Regions from separate parts of the Homo sapiens genome. Here region 2 is linked to region 1. Evidence: fine-mapped expression QTL. A gene starts in region 1. The other region holds a variant in brackets. All regions are shown on one strand. Distances are between the middles of the regions. Region 1 holds the start of SP110 (SP110 nuclear body protein). Region 2 overlaps SP110 (SP110 nuclear body protein).

Region 1 (9,532 bases):
GTCTCTCTCTGTGTCTCTCAAACTTGAGATAAGCCTGAATGGATTCCAGCCACAGAGAAGTCACCCTGAGAATTTTCCTTGCCTAGAGGATGGACAAAAGGAGAAATACGGCAAGAGAGAACTGATTGCAAATAATTATTGAACATCTACTAGGCTCGGTCAGCGAGTCTTTGGGTACACAGCACTGAATAAGACCAACATGGAGTTGCCTATATTTGGGGGTCAGGGTAGGCACTGTCAAGTGGAGAAGATGAGCATTAATAAACACAAATAAATACCCATTTACAATTGAGAGTAGTGTTACGGAGGGAAAGCATAGATTGCTATGGAACTGAATAACTAAGGGGTCTTCATGAGATGAGTTGGCCAAGGAGATGTCTCTGAGGAGTGCTCTCTGGGCTGTGATCTGAAGAGGGAGTTGGGGCCAACCAGACTAAGACTAAGGGAAGATTATTGGCACTTCCTTGAGTCTAGGGCTCAATTAATGCTTTTAAAAACCAAAATTATATAAAAATAGGTCCACTTTTGTCCACATAGCATATCTCCCAGTGCCTGCCTGTCTCACATCAGAATGCACTGTGAGCAATATTAGCTGTTATAAATTGGGATGATGCCTGTAGTGAGTTGAATGTTGGATGGATATATCTCAGCCAAGATATATCCATCTAGAATCTGTGAATGTGAACTTATTTGGAAAAAGTGTCTTTGCAGTTGTAATTAAGTTAAGGATCTTGAGATAAAATCATCTTTGATTAGGGTGACCCTAAATCCAAGTGTCCTCAGAAGATTAGGTAGAAGACTCAAAAGAGAGGTGATGTAGAGATGAAAACATATCAGAGTGATGCATCTACAAGGCAAGGAACACTAAGGATTTCCAACAGCTACCAGAAGCTAGGAGATAGGCAGCTATCGGATTCTCCTCAGGGCCTCTAGAAGGAACCAACCCTGTCAACACCTTGATTTTGGACTTCTGGCCTCCACACCTGAGAGAATATATTTCTGTTGTTTTAAGCTACCTGGTTTGTAGTCATTGTTACAGCAGTCCTTATGACACCCTAGAAACCAACATAGCCCCTATGACACCCTCTCTCCTAACTACCCCCACCTTCTGTGATAATGAACATGCCTGGGCTGGGCCTTCCAAACTCTGGAAGCCCTGGTGGTTTGTGGTTTGAGACTTTAATAATCAGGCATATTGGTGGGGGCTGGGCTGCCATGGAAGGGTTCAACATGACTCACCATGTACATTCTCTTAGTGATGATGGAGTTGTCTAGGAGGCCTTCAAAGAAGGGAAATGGCTTGTGTATGGCATAGGCGATCCCCAGCTTCTGGTGCATGAAGTGCTGAAAAAGAGCCTCTTCCATGGCTCTTGTCATGGTGAACATCCTATGGAAAGAGGCATGATAAAAAATAGAAGCAAAGGCTGGGCGCGGTGGCTCATGCCTGTAATCCCGGCACTTTGGGAGGCCGAGGTGGGTGGATCACCTGAGGTCAAGAGATTGAGACCATCCTGGCCAACATGGTGAAACTCTGTCTCTACTAAAAATACAAAAATTAGCTGGGTGTGGTGGCGCACGCCTGTAGTCCCAGCTACTTGGGAGGCTGAGGCGGGAAAATTGCTTGAACCGGGGAGGTGGAGGTTGCAGTAAGCCAAGATTGTGCCACTGCACTCCAGCCTGGGTGACAGAGTGAGACTCCATCTCAAAAAAAAAAAAAAAAAAAATAGAAGCAAAACCTTGAGGAATGTGGGAAGCTTCTCTCTGCATTAAATGGGCAGATCTAAAGGTAAGCATTCTGGTCCCAAAGGCATCCTTAGTAGCCTGCAAAGCAATGTCTGCCTAAAAGGCTCATGGGTATAGGAAACAAGGACAATTCCCAGCAACAATGGAGGCTGAGAGTGACTGAAAATATAATGACAGAATCCCAAGGCGCTGCAGGTAAACATAAGGAAGGTATTAAAAGTAGCTAATATTTATGGAGTGTTTCCTGTGTGCCAGACTTTGTTCTAAGGGTTTCATATGCAGTAACTTATCTGATTTTCATAAAACCCTTGCGAGGTGGTTCCTATGACTGCACCTGTTTATACTGTTGAGGAACTGAGACACAGAAATGTTTAATAACTTGCCCCAGGGTTGCACAACTAGAGAGTGGAAGAGCTGGGAGCAAATCCTGATTCCAGGCTTACAGTGCTAACTATGTGTTCTATGGCCACACTGATCTGGGTTAAACAAGATGACCTGGGCTACGGCTGAAGCCATTAACTAGCAATGCTCATGCAACAGGGACCACCCTAAAATGGGTAGAGTTCAGCTGGAAACCTGGTAATATTTGGAAACTTTAACGAACCACTCCCAATCTTCAACACAAATGGGCCAAGCATAAATAAAAGCATGAGGGCTGAGAAAGGCATACTTAGTAAAAGTGACTTAACTGACTTGTTCACTGCAACCATTTCATGTCTCAGACATGCGCCTTTTCCCATGCCCATGCAGCATGTATTAAAGATTGGCCATTTATGGACTGTGAGGAGATATCAATAGGTTATAATGGGAAGAAAGTTTACAAATGACATTCTTGACAAATTGTCAAGAAAAGGAAAAGCACTAACAAAACATTCAATCAACTTGACAGTTTTTAACAAACAGAACAAACATGGATTCCACTTTTCCAACTTCATTTTGTGTTGAACAGAAAAGTAAATCGTAATTAACAACTGTTTACAGGGATTTAATCCCAGTGGCAGATTAAGCACCCTAGTCTCTTTCTCCTCATTCCCCAATTTTTTTAACTTGGCAGAAAAAAATACTCATGAAAAGAATAATCCGCAATCGCATAGGAAAACAAGAAAAGATGCCATTGAGAGTCTGTGGTGGTAAAGAAGTCTTGGAAGATAGAGAACAGATAGGAGAGAAATCTACTATCCACAATATGCACAGGGGAAGGAGATAGTGCAAAGATCAGTGCAAAGTCAGAGAAAGGCAGAGTAAACATATACTAAGAAGAGGAAGGGGTCTTGGAGGCTCCTTTTAGAACAATTCATTATACAGCAGCGCTCAGAACAGGAAGTCTAGAGCTTCCTCATTCTTCATCTGTCATGAGTCCCAAAGATGAAAGGGAGGCACAGAGAGGTTTAGTAACTCACCCAAGGTATTCAGTGGCAAAGCAGAGCTTGTCTGACTCTAAAGCCCTGTTTCTTTCTATGCAAGATACTACATCTCATATATGACTGTTCAGATTTTTATTATGTAAAGAGATTTTGCAAACGAATAAGCAAAAGACAAACATCCAACTAGAAAATAAAAAAGCAAAATACATGAACAGAGAGTGATAAAAGAATAAGCCAAATGTGCAATGAATAATACGATAAGCATGTTAACTAGCTAGTAGAAAGCATAAAGAAGGCCAGGCATGGTGGCTCATGCCTGTAATCCCAGCACTTTGGGAGGTTGAGGTGGGCGGATCAGCTGAGGTCAGGAGTTCGAGACCAGCCTGGCCAACATGGTGAAACCCTGTCTCTACTAAAAATACAAAAATTAGCTGGGCGTGGTGGTGCACATCTGTAGTCCCAGTTACTCAGGAGGCTGAGGCAGGAGAATCGCTTGAACCTGGGAGGTGGAGGTTGCAGTGATCTGAGATGGTGCCATTGCACTCCAGCCTGGGTGACAGAGCGAGACTCCGTCTCAGAAAACAACAACAACAAACAACCAAAAAAAGTGTAAATGAAGACAATTTGATAACATATTTGTCTATCAAATTGGCCAAGATAGAAAATAATAGTAATAATCTCAGACACTGTGAGTGGGAAGGTCAACAGGTCCAAATGTTCTGAAGGCTGATTTAGTAATCAGTGTCAAATGTCCTAAAACATGTGCTCCTTTGAATTTCCACTTCTAATAATTTATTTCAAGGAAATAATCATGTATTTAGAGAAAATATATAAAAAGTTCATGATACACTAGAGACGAAATTAAATGTACTCTCATTTTTTTCTTTTCCACCAGCTTCCCAAGTACCTCTAGTCATTTACACAATGGATAACAGATGAGCCGCCTATTGCGGGCACTGAAGGATCAGAGCTTAGGTGAGGGTAGAGGGCAAATCTCGGCTCCATTCACAATAACAGGCTGGACTCTGGCGAAAAAAAGAGGTGTCAGTGTTCCCTCCATGTGCCCCCTTTTAACAGTCTCCTAATAAGTACCACATGTCTGAGCTCTGAGAGAGCCTCAGAGTTTAAATAGTTGAACTCCACCCTGCAGCTGCTGCCGCGAAGTTAACTCTAAGAGCTGCAGTCACCAAGAGCGAAGAATAAAGCAGCAAAGACAGAAACTCACCTGGACTTTGAGTTTGTCGTTCCTGCCCCTTTCCAGGGGCTGGGACAGGGATCACTCCTCAAGATTGGGAGAGTTACAGGGAGATGCTAGCAGGCAAAACAGGAAGTCTGTGCTTTGACAAACGCAGTAAGGGGCCGGGCTTCCGAGAAAAGAAAAGTGAAAGTTTTCGGAGTTTGCCAAGCCGGAAGCTGAAGGCAGGTCGGTGCCTGCAGCCTCTCTCCACCTCCTCATGGGCACTTGTGAGGCTCCCAGGACGTCTTGGCAGTTGGGGTTTGGGGGAGGGCGTGTTGCCAGTTGGGATCAGCCCAGAGAGGGAGGTATGGGAGGAGGAGGCATAAGGGTACAGCCCCAGCGGCAATAGGAACTGGGAACTCAGCGTCCAAATGCTTCCCTAACCACATCTATTTTCCCATGACTTGTCCTCATTCTGTACATTTTAGGTTGATGAAAATGTTCTCAAACTGGATTGTGGTGATGTTTACATAACTGAATGAATTCACTGGAATTTATCCAGTGTGTTATCAAACTCTAACAACACACAAAAAAACAAAGAGAATGTGCCAGAAATGCCTAGAACTTGTCAGGATAAGATTATTACAGGAAGAAATTGAAATGAAAGGGAACCTGCACATGAACTGGAATTGTGCAGAGGCAGGCAGACCTCCAGGCAGAAAAATGGCTGAGAGCTGGGCAGGTAGTTGGGAGCCAGGAGTCTGAGGCAGAACTGGGACCTGCTGATTCCAGAGAGCAGTAACTCAAGGGCTGGCAGGGACACCCCTTCTCATGCCCCTTTTAAAGATCCCTAATGTACATTGACATGTGGGGCCTATGAAAAATCCTAAACTATTGGCCAGGCACAGTGGCTCATGCCTATAATCCCAGGACTTTAGGAGGCCAAGATGGGAGGATTGCTTGAGCCTAGGAGTTTGAGACCAGTCTGGGCAACATAGTGAGACCCCATCTCTACAAAAAATAAAAAAATAAAAAATTAACTGAGTGTGGTGGCATGCACCTTGTAGTCCTAGTTAGTGAGGAGGCTGAGGCTGGAGACTTGCTTGAGCCCAGGAGTTCAAGGCTGCGGTGAGCTATGATTGCACCACTGCACTATAGAAATCTGTGTAACTTTGGGCCAGGCTCGGTGGCTCACGCCTGTAATCCCAGCACTTTGGGAGGCTGAGATGGGTGGATCACAAGGTCAGGAGTTTGAGACCATCCTGGCCAACATGGTGAAACCCCATCTCTACTAAAAATACAAAAATTAGCCAGATGTGGTGGCGGGAACCTGTAATCCCAGCTACTTGGGAGGCTGAGGCAGGAGAATTGCTTGAACCCAGGAGGTGGAGGTTGCAGTGAGCCGAGATCGCACCACTGCACTCCAGCCTGGGTGACAGAGCAAGACTCCATCTCGAAAAAAAAAAAAAAAAAGAATTCTATGTAACTTTGATTAAATCAATAATTCTCAAATGTATTTGACCCACAAGTTCCCCTACCAGGACATCCACAAACTCCTCAGATAAAAGATGGGAGACATGGATCTAAAGTTTAAGAAGCTTTGAAACCAAGGCTAACTGCATAAGAGCAAGCCCTTCTATGCAGGCACAAACAGCATATCCCACCCTAGTATGTACAGAATAGCAGACCCGGCCTTGCGGGTAATGGCTGTGGGTGAAACAGAGGCATGGAAGCCACAGCCAGGAAAAATTCAATGCTAACAGCTGAGGAGAGGGTGCATTGATGCCTCAGCATGCAGTAACATACAGCGCTGTGATGCAGGGGATGGCGGTGGTAAAGGAATTAAGGTTATTTTATGCAAATGTCACATGTCACTTACCTGAAGCCCCTCCCCATCACCTGGAAAGCCCCTTCATGGGCATCTGAGGATCCTGGCAGCAAGAACTTCTTCCTTTAGATCTATTCAGAGATACACCAGGCAAATGCAAAACAAACAAACAAAAGTAAAGCAGGAGTGGGAAAATAAAGTCAATGTCAAATCAGGCAAAAATTGTTACATGAAAAAAAGACAGCTGCGAATGAGGATGAAAGATGTTTATTCTAAGCCATATATGCTTGGCTGGGCACAGTGGCTCAGGCCTGTAGCTTAGCTAGCACTTTGGGAGGCTGAGGCAGGCAGATCACTTGAGGCCAGGAATTCAAGACCAGCCTTGCCAACATGGCAAAATCCCGTCTCTACTAAAAACACAAAAAAATTAGCTGGGCGTGGTGGCACATGCCTGTAATCCGAGCTACTCGGGAGGCTGAGGCATGAGAATCGCTTGAACTCAGGAGCTGGAGGTTGCAGTGAGCTGAGACTGCGCCACAGCAGTTCAGCCTGAGCAACAGAGTGAGATCCCGCCTCAAAAAAAAAAAAAAAAAAATGCATGCTTGAGAACATGGTAATAATGGGAAAACGTCACCTGTTAATTCACATGCTAGTGATTATGTACTGAGATAAATTATACATAATTCTTTTTAGCTCCATTTTATTGAGGTATAAAATTTATTCATTGTAATGTACATTTTACCAAATGTAGTTACTACACCAGTCAAGATGTAGACCATTTCTAGGCCTGGAGAGTCGCTTGTGCCTATAATCCCAGCATTCTGGGAGGTCAAAGCAGGAGGATCGCTTGAGCCCAGGTGTTTGAGACCAGCCTGGACAACAGAGCAAGACCTCGTCTCTACAAAAATACATTTTTTTAAATTAATTGGGCATGTTGGCATACACCTGTGGTCCCCGCTATCAGGGAGACAGAAGTGGGAGAATTGCTTGAGCCCAGGAGGTCCAGTCTCTGGTGAGCAGTGACAGAGTGAGACCCTGTCTCAAAAAAAAAAAAAAAGATACAGACCATTTCTGTTACCCTAGAAAGTTCCCTGTGACCTTTGCAAACAATCCCCTCCTTAAGGCCAGCACCAGGCAACCACTGATCTGCTTTCTATCACCACAGATTAGTTTCGTGTGTATTAAAGTTTTTTTTTTTTTTTTTTTTATCAATGAAGGCACATGGAATGCATTTTTGGTGTATGGCTTTCTTTTCCTCATCATCATGCTTTTGAGATTCATCTCTGTTGTTGTGGGTCAGTAATTTATTCTTCTTTAGCAGGTATGCTAGCCACCAAGATCCTGCTCATCCTGTCTGATCAGCATGATGTCATCAATCAGTCTGACTTTTTTTTTTTTTTTTGAGACAGAGTCACGGTCTGTCTCCAGGCTAGAGTGCTGTGGCGCAATCTTGGCTCACTGCAACCTCCGCCTCCCAGGTTCAAGTGATTCTCTTTCCTCAGCCTCCTGAGTAGCTGGGACTACAGGCACGCATCACCATACCTGGCTAATTTTTGTATTTTTAGTAGAGATGGGGTTTCACCATGTTGGCCAGGATGGTCTTGATCTCCTGACCTCGTGATCTGCCTGCCTCAGCCTCCCGAAGTGCTGGGGTTATAGGCATGAGCCACCATGCCCAGCCCAGTCTGACATTCTATGGGATGTCCAGGTGATCCAGATATCTTTCAACTATATTATGACAAAGGGCAAGTGAGTCAATATAACCTGCCTGGACTGCCTACTTTCTTAACCTAGTCCTCTGGCTTTCCCATACATTCTGTGAGCTACCCAATATAGTTCTAAGAAATTGACTTTTTGCCTGAGTTAGCCAGAGTCAGTTTGGATTACTTTTACTCCCAAATCCTGACTGATAAAAATGTTGGGCACCAGAGGTTGAATTATAGGCAAGAGATATTCAAGGAAATATGATCAATCTGGGATTGGTTATCTGACATAATTGGACATAAAAACAGTGAACATCCCCATTAGCGTTCAGAGTCAGGAATTTTGGAGTTGTGGGCAAATAGGGGTAAGTTGGCAAATTAAATTACAGCACTGGATTGTGATCAAGACTCTATACAATTCATTTCCCCAATTCCAGGTGTCAGATTCTAGCATGCTTAGCAAAATGAAGAGAAATCTTCCAGGTAGAATGAAAGCATTGATTTACCTTTGGGGATTATGACCTACTTGGCCTAAATCTGGATGGGGGAACAGAGCCAGGAGGCAGGCCGGAGCCTTCTGACTCCACTGGTCACGTGGCAGTAAAGGAAGACATTGGGAACCAGAGATGGTCTGATGGTCCTACATATGCCTGGCCCAGGAATCCCTTACCCAGGAGAGGTTCTGTAGTGAGCATAGGGAAAAACAAGATAGTGGGAAATAGAACTGAAATTTCAGGCTATCCTTACCTGGGCTAATGCATGGTGTTGCAAAGTAGGGCTTTCTAGTAGTAGCAGCAGTACCCCTGAAGTACCAATCTTACCACCAGTCAGCTGAGGAACACCAATGGCCTTGTGCTTATAAGCAAAAGAAGCTGGCACATTTTCAAAAATGTCCAGTTCATTGGTGTCCTGGGTCTGCCTACTGCCTAAGGGCAGAGAGAAGAGAGAGAGGGGATGCTGGAGCAGGCGGTATAGTCTGTACCAGGCCTTGTTGGAGCCCCATGGAGACTGGGAGGAGAGGACAGCTGTGTCTAACAGAAGCCCAGCATACTTTTCCTTCTTGTTTTAAAGAGGGAGGGAGAGGGAGGGAGAGAGAGGGAGAGGGAGGGAGAGGGAGGGAGAGAGAGGGAGAGAGAGGGAGACAGAGGAGAGAGAGGACAGAGAGAGAGAGAGAGAGGAGAGAGAGAGAGATACTGGAAAAGGTGTCCTCATCAGTGTTCTAGAGTTTGTCTCAACCAGATTGGTGTTTGTTCCTTTGGTAGAAAGAAAGCAGAAGTGTGGAAGGGGTAGAAATTTCTTGCACTCTGTATTTTGCAAACTTATGTATGCAAATTTCCTTGCATATGTGTAATGAACCAGAAAAAGTAGGATTCAGGAGCACATGTTTTGGAAAAATACTGCTTTGCCTCTGGCTTTTCAATCCTCACTACTGTTCTGTCACTGGCCCTGGATTCTACCCATACCCTGGCTCTCATCAGCCCCCTGTCTTTGACCCATTTTTCTGCCTGGATTTCTAGTCCTGTGGTTATATTTTTTATATTTGCCCTTTGCTTCCATTTGTTTATCACTCGACTTTATGCTGATATAGTGTGTTTTTGTAAATTGTTTCAAATCCTTTACAGAATGAGGGCTGGGTATAAATGAAAAATTGTGTGCAAACATAAATGTAATACAGCTATCCTCCTGTATCATATTGTCCTTGAAGGTCTAGATAATC
Region 2 (8,000 bases), 45 kb before region 1:
CATTTATGGGTACCATAAATAATAATGCCCATTTCATAGATGAGGAAACCGAGGGATGGAGAGGTCAAGGAACCTACCCAAGATGTCTCAGCAAGAAAGTGGTAGAGCTGAGATGGGAACCCACACAGTTTGGCATCTATGACTCTTTTTTTTCTTTTGAGATGGAGTCTTGCTTTGTCACCCAGGCTGGAGTGCAGTGGTGCGATCTTGGCTCACCGCAACCTCTGCTTCCTGGGTTCAAGCGATTCTCCTGCCTCAGCCTCCTGAGTAGCTGGGATTAGAGGTGCCTGCCACCATGCCTGGCTAATTTTGTATTTTTAGTAGAGATGGGGTTTTGCCATGTTGGCCAAGCTGGTCTCAAACTCCTGACTTCAAGTGATCTGCCCGCCTTGGCCTCCCAAAGTGCTGGGATTACAGGCGTGAGCCGCTGAGCCCAGCTGGCATCTGTGACTCTTAATCTCTAGTAGGAAAGACATTCTTCCTAAAGAGAAGATGAAACAGATACACAGGAGGAGAAGCAACTTGCCCGGTATCCCAGAGCCCGTGAGCAGTGGGGTGGAGTTTGAACCAGGTAGTCCCTCTCCAGAGTGTGCAGCAAAATCCCTGCTGCCCCGCTCCACTGCTGCCACGCTGCCCTTCTCTTCTGTTCTCCAGCTTCCTGAGCAAACTGCAGCACCTGCCAGATCAGCCCCCAAATTTCTCCAAATGCATTTTATGCAAGAGAACCGTAAAATGTGACTTACATTAAATGGGATGCCCGTAAAAAAGGAGCTTTGTGGATGACAGTAGGCCTTCAAGAGGAGGAACTCACATTTCTGTAAAATGTGAAGAGGGCTTGAAAGTGAAATGCAGCTTAGAAACAGTGAAGCCAGGCGAGTGTCTAGACATGCACACGGATGGGGCAGCCAAGCCCAGTCAGCATTCCAGCCATGCTTCCCAAGGCGCACAGGGTGTGTGGGATTTTGTTTAGACTCTGAGTTTGGGCATTAAATCGTCATCCTTTAAAGGGAGACATTGAAGGCTCCCTTTGGTACATTGCCCTGACCCTGTGCCTGTTTGTGCTTCTCGTGTGAGAAGGGAAAAGTATAGGTTTGGGGTTTGCATCCAACTCACCAGCTGGTCCTGAGGCTGCATCTGCCTCTCCAGGGTCTTAGATACATGATGGCACTGTTGGCTTCCTGAAGACCTCTTCATCCTGCAGAAGGTGCAACTCCACAGCATCCTGAGAGGTTGGACACAAGGTGAGCAGAGGGCAAAGCCCCTGGAAATGGCCACCATTCCTGTGGCTGCCACTGTCTTCCCTCAGGAAGGATGGGCTCAGCCATGAGGGTGGGACACCTCCCAGAGTGTCCAAGATCCCCACATGGGGTCTCCAGCATTGGCCCTTCCCTCGCATCAGTGGTAGCGGCAGGCGGGCAGCCTGAGGAAGGTGGTGTCACTGTTAAGTGTGGGCTCTCTTTTCCCTGTCTGAGCTGCTGGGAGCACAAAGGAACCCTGCCTGCCAGGCTTGAGTGTCAGAATCTGGGCTTTCACCTGCAGGGACCTCAGGCCTCCATCAGCCAGGTGAGACTATGGTGAAATGTGTGACAAGCCGTGCTTCCTGTCTTTCCTCAACAGGCACAGAACATAAGCTGGCTTTTCCCGTCCCCTCCTCCTTTTGGACAGGAGTCCCTGCTGTCCAGGGAATAGCATACTAGGAAAGGGCACTTCCAGGGGCAGAAGCAGTGTGGGGCCAAGAGGCTCACTGGCAGTCTCAGAGACCCAGAGAGGCCCAGAGTCTCTGGCACCAGACTGCTCTGCGTCACACCCTCGTCCCCGACGCTCACAGGTCCTGCCCTTTCCATCTGGAGGTGAGTGCTGTGTGCCCGAGGCGGGGCTGCATCCCACTCACCTCTTGGCTTCCACAGGGGGGATGTGACAGTCCTCATGGAAGACTCGTGGACAAGTACCGCAGCAGAGAAGTTGTCCCCCTTGACAGCACACCTCGCATTCATCCGAGTTTTTCCGCTGCAAGGGCAGATAACGTGGGCACCGCTAGGACCATGGAGACCCACGAATGCTGACCCTGTGGGGTTCTAGAACACATCATTTTTGTGTGTGCCAGAGTGGATATCCAAACCCAATTTTTGATGGGGGGAGCTGATGCCACCTCCCTGGGGGAAATTGCAAGACAAATGGCACAACAAGCAGAGAGTCTGGGTGGTGACCGCCGCCACCAGGACTTTTCTTCTCTGGCTGTGGCTTGCCAACAGGTTCTGCTGCGTTTTGAGCTGTGCTGCTGCCTGCTGGCAAGCTTGTGCTTTGAGCTGGGCCACTCTGGGCGCATTTGCTGAGCCCACCAGGCCTCTATTAATAGATCTGACTGACCAAAGTAAGAAATGATGATAACTGGCATTTGGGTGCAGGAGTATGGGAACTGTTGTTCCTGGTGCCTTGCCTAACTGCCCCATGGTCGTAACATAACATGGCCCTAAAATGTTCCACAGTGGGCATGGATGCTATGACCCAGTAAATAACACATTAAAATAATTAAAATTAAGTTACCTTTGGCACTTACAATTGGCTTTACAAAATGGAACTCTATGGACCTTCTCTGTTAAAATATTTAATACTGATCAATATGAATTAAAACACGGCTTTCAAGGATTGAAACTCATTATGGAAGATCTATTTAGAGAAAGGGTGATTATCCCCACTGTTTCTCCATTTAACAGCCCAATTTGGTCTGTTCTTAGGCTTGGAAAGAATGAATGGTGCCTCTCGGTGAATTACTACAACCTGAATCCTGTGACCCCACCTGTGATGGCCCAATGTTATTGAAATTACTGACTCCATCCACTTAGCAAGTGGTAAATACTCTGCAGGCATAGATTTGACTAATGTGTTCTGTTCAGCGCCTATTTCAACAGATCTCAGCTGCAGGTTGCTTTCACCCCCGAAGGGACACAATAGACCGTTATCTGGCTACCACGGGGTACCTCGACAGTTCTGCCACCATACACAATCTTTGCAGGCAGGATTTGAACTGCATCTGACATTCTCTAGGAGTACAGGTGTAACATCACCCTGAAGACACCCTTCTTTCAGCAAATTCATTTGACACACTCAGGACATTACTCACAAAGAACTCATAGAAAAGGATGGGGTTTGTGTTTCCACATGGTGGGATTAAACTAAAACAAAAAAGTATGGGCCACTGCCCCAGGCATAGTACAGGGATCCACACCAATTTCTGGCCATTGTCTGGTCAGTTGAGGGATGCTCCATCCCTGACACTGTCAAAAAATAATTATTGACCCTCTGAGTACTCACAGTGTTCTAATAAACCTCCCAGCATCCTTCAGGCCTCTTGAGTTCAAGGAAACACATCCTTCATTTGTAGATTTTAGGTAAGCCCATTTACGCTGTTACTTGCAAAATAAGCCCACTTTGAATGGGGCCCCTTCTAACAAAAGGTTCTAGAATCTGTCAAATTGCAATACAGCAGACATTAGTGCCCTCCTGAGTCTCATTCACTGTGGAAGCTTTGGCAACCTCCTCTCATGCCTCCTGGCATCTCTGGACCACCCATGATGGCCATGGGCTTCTGATACAAAAAAAAACCAAAACCCCAAAAGCTGTTCTCCTCAGCCTCACACTATATGCTGATAGAGTGGCAACTGCTGGCTGCATCCAAGCCCTTCTGGAGACGGAGGCTCTCACAGGCCAAGTCTGTGGCTCTTTACACCAGCTGCCCATCATGTGTGGGTCATGGAGGCAGCACGCTGCAGGGCAACCACAAAACACATTTTGGGAGTACCAGCATCGGTCTCTTTGTTGTACACATACATAAGTGAGACTGCAGTGGAGACAGACGGACGTGCTGCCGAGCAGCAGTGACACTGGATGATGGGGCTGAGGGCAAGGCCCGCACTGGCTCATTCTCAGTCGGGTAAACCTTCATCTTATTCTCCCAACCTGGCCCTGGAAGGTGGGACTGAGAGGCTGGGTCAAGCATGCCCCTGGCTATTATGAGCTGACATGTGGCATTAGGAGAGTTAGAGGGTATTACCATGTTGGGGCTATTAATTAATGATCTGGATTTTAAAGATTTTTTTTTTTCTGGTTGCAAAAGTAACAAATGGTCATTATAGTAATTCCAATTGTACATAAAGGTATAATACAGAAGGCATATGTCCCTGTGATCTCATCTCAAAATAAGTGCAGTTGATTCTTTTGGCTATTTTTTCACTCATAGACCTACCTACACGTTCACATAAGCAACAATGGGTTCCTTCCCCACACGTCACAACTAGCATTAAGTGTCCTGAAGCTCTCCTGACCACAAAACCATTTGGTGGCTTTCCATTGATTGAAGGATAACTCCATACTTATGAATCCATGTATTTAAACAAATATCTATATCAAAGGTCTAATATTCTATAAGAAAAGTTTAAAAAAAAACCATTCTGTAGCTGTATCAGTTTATTCTGCAATACTGATAGAACTTGTGTTCGTCCCTAATTTTTTGCTATTATGATGTTACACTGAGCACCCCTGATTCTCAGGGTATTTCAGACCAGCATGGGAAAGATGATTTATATAATAGATGGCATTGGGAGACCAGTGCCTTAAACTTTGAATGAATCCAGCCTGGTCAGGCCAGCCTCCAGGGCAAGATGGGGGAGGCACCATTGTCTCTGCTGGAAGTTCACAACTAACGGGAAGCTCATGAGTGGAGCTGATGTGTCTGGAGAACACATCTAAGCAAGTAGAGGAGGTTGAGGAGGGGGAGTTAGTGCAGCCAATAGATGACTGCCATTTCCAGCTGTAGGGATGCCCTGTAGAGACAAAGCTCAGTTCAAAGGCGTCATTCCATCCTGGTGCTACCAATAAGAAGCATGGAGGATTCAGCAATACTCAGTATGCAATCATGGATGATCCTCTTGTCCTTTCATATACTGTTCCTGTCTATTTCAATGCCT[T/G]TTCTTTTGCTTTTCATGCTGCAGCATTCTTTTTTTTTTTTTTCTGAGACAGGGTCTTGCTCTGTTGCCCCAGCTGGAGTGCAGTGGCATGATCTCGCCTCACTGCAACCTCTGCCTCCAGAGCTCAAGTGATCCTCCCACCTCAGCCTCCTGAGTAGCTGGGACTACAGGTGCATGCCACCATGCCTGGCTAATTTTTGTATGTTTTGTAAAGAAGGGGTTTTGTCCTGTTGCCCAGGCTGGTCTCAAACTCCTGGGCTCAAGGGATCCACCCACCTTGGTCTCCCAAAGTGCTGGGATTACATCGCTCTGTATAGCAATACAGAGTCTCACTATATCACTCAGGCTGGTCTTGAACTCCTGGGCTCAAGCAATCCTCCTACCTCAGCCTTAGCTGGGACTACAGGTGCACACCACCATTCCTAGTTGATTAAAAAAAAATTTGTTAGAGATGGGGTCTTGCTATGTTGCCTAGGCTTAGAGCATTTTATTTCTGACACCTTTGGTTTATAGCCATCCAAATATCCAGATCTTTTTCTAAAACACATGGACATGATGAGCTTTTTCATTTAATTTTTATTTTAGAGTCATTTGCTTCCCCATCCCAAATTAACTATGCAAATTAATTGTTTTGAAGATGCCATGCCCAAATGTGGAGGTGACTCAGAGCTTGGAAACTCAGAAGCTCTAAGGTGAGCCTCCAGACAGGGAAAGTCTGCAACATGGTGACTGAGAGGGTAGTAGAAATTCACTTGCTATTTAACTCTCTCTTGAGATTTATTCTTGGAGGACAGAGCAAAAGTCCACTCTGAAAGACAGAAGGAGTCAATGAATGAGGTTATTCTGGAGGTTTTTCTTTTGTAGATACTGGCCTTCCCACTTCCTAGTGAATGTCTGTACCCAGACATCACACTGGATCTCAAACCCAAGAAGTCAAAAAGAAAAATTAGCTCCCTCCCCCAGTCAGTTTTTCTTCTGGACCTCACTTAGTGATAAAATCACTTTTTCCCCTGTCACTCAAACCCACGACCCTAGTTCTTCTTTCTTAACCTTTCCCATCCATTCCTTTCTCCTTCCATTTCTCCCTCTCTAGATTAAAATCTTTAGGATTTCATCCTAGTGATAATTTCTTGAGTGTTGCTGAGAGAGGCCTTGTGTTGGGTCCTGTCATCATAGACACTAGTTGTTCTCAGGACAGGAATAGTGTGCTGTGGACATGCAGCGGAGAGACAGACCACGGACTGGGCAGCCTGGAAATGCTGCAGGGGGGCCAGATGAGCTGGGCCTTGAGTAGATGTCAGGTAGAGGATGCAGGGGAGTGGTTGCAGGCATCTGTCTTCAGCTAGTTTCTTTTTAGGTTCTTACATCTCTCTTCACCTCAAAGCCCTTTGCCGGCATTTAAAGTTCCTGTACTCCTTTACTTGCATTTAAAGTTCTCCACCATCAGGAACAATATGTGCTCCTAACTTTGTCACCCACAGTTTTTTTTCTATGAACATTTAACTCCTTATAAATCATGCTGTTGAATCCTAACGGGAGCTCTTCACATTTCTGCTCTTAAAGCTCCACTTCTCCTTCAAGGATTTAAACCTGTCACCTATCTGTCCCGTCATTATAATACCTTCAGCAGCTCTCCTAGGGTCATTCCTTCACAACGTATATTCCGTTTCCAGTTCTTTGCGTTCCTTCCTTTTCCTTCGACTTCAAATTCATTTGGTGTTAACCAAGTTCCATCCTCATTCCGAATGCACTTCACTGAGGATCCTGTAAGAAAAAGCCCATTCTTGGATCTACCCCCATCCTCTGTGAATTCACCCTGAACCTCTTCATCCTAATTGTGGCCTTCTACCTTTCCAGGTCAAGAGAGACTTCCTCTGTGAGGTGGAAGGAGTAGCAGGGGAGTCTGCGGGCCTCTTCTCTTGGACTGAAGCCAGCCCTAAAGCCTGACTGAGTGGTGAGGGGTGGGACAGAATGTGCATTCGTGTAGTGCCTACATGCAGCAAGGACATGGCTGTCAGTACAGCAGGGCCCATGGGTGACTTCCAGGTGGGAGTGGAGGGTCTGATTGCCAGAAATACCATGATGTGGAAGAGTTTGGAAATTCCTTCCTAAGAAGCGTTTCTTCTGCAGTCTAGCTAGCAGGGTCCATTTCCTGATCAATTACACACACGGGTATTTTCCTCCCTTCTAGTGAGTCCTTCATCTAGGGATTCCAAAGAGCAGAAGACCAAGGAACTCACCGTGTTTCATTTTCTTCTTATATAAAATCCCTTTCGCCTCACCACAGGTCACGGGGAGCTTAGAACAGTGAAAATCCACAGTGTCACTTTTGGGTTTTCCTTAAAGTAGAAGAGAACAGTTTTGTGTTATTCAGTCTTCACTCCATCTTCCTTTTGAATTCTCCCCTCCATGAATTCCAATAATGTACAGGGTATTGGGGAACGTTCTCTGGTTAGTTTGCAGGAACTCTTTCATCTCGAGTGACAGATAAGCTATGTGTACACAGTGGCCTGCAACAAACCACCACTGCCACCAACACTATATCAAAAAAAAAAACATTTTAGTGGAACATATAGGGCATCTTCAGTGAATGTGTCTTAATTTGCAAGTGAATTGGCTGTCACTGAATAGTCTTCTATTCTATAAGCATCCTGCTGATCTCTCTGTGCTGATGGAAATGTTTCTTTGCATTCATGTTGCCAGAGGAAAAAAAAATCTTCATTTATAATCTTATTTCCTGACTTAAATGAAGACTTGGGTGAGTGAGGTGGCTGGCACTGAGGGGATGGTGTCAGTCTTAATTATTTGCTGTTTCTTTTCATTTTATTGCTTCCCTGCTTCTTCCTCGATGAATAAAAGAAAACCCTGGAGAGCTTTGAACTAATTTCCCAGTTGCTCATGGAGCAGTCTGGCAACTCAGAACCCCTGGGTAGAAATCCAGAGTTTAGATTCAGGGGAAGCAGTTGCAAGAGGGTTTAAAATAAATCTCAGCAATTCCTGCTGCCTTCCCCTCCAACCTCACTATGGGTGAATTCA

The links.
Region 2: its variant is fine-mapped to the expression of SP110 in T cells (TOPMed, PIP 0.97).

Annotation. Positions count from the first base shown.
Region 1 is chr2:230,215,542-230,225,073 of GRCh38, forward strand. It overlaps SP110 (SP110 nuclear body protein), which reads right to left and starts at 4,443. Exons shown (of 19, transcript NM_080424.4): 1 at 4,333-4,443; 2 at 1,240-1,387. The coding sequence starts at 1,386. It also overlaps a transcript of SP140 not described here. RefSeq lists enhancers at 1,082-1,231, 4,172-4,651 and a silencer at 4,369-4,555.
Region 2 is chr2:230,170,953-230,178,952 of GRCh38, forward strand. It overlaps SP110 (SP110 nuclear body protein), which reads right to left. Exons shown (of 19, transcript NM_080424.4): 13 at 7,205-7,303; 14 at 6,586-6,728; 15 at 1,892-2,007; 16 at 1,114-1,222; 17 at 744-815. Among named protein-coding and RNA genes, the nearest start is that of SP110, 45 kb to the right of the region's middle. The variant T/G (reference allele first, on the strand shown) is at 4,965.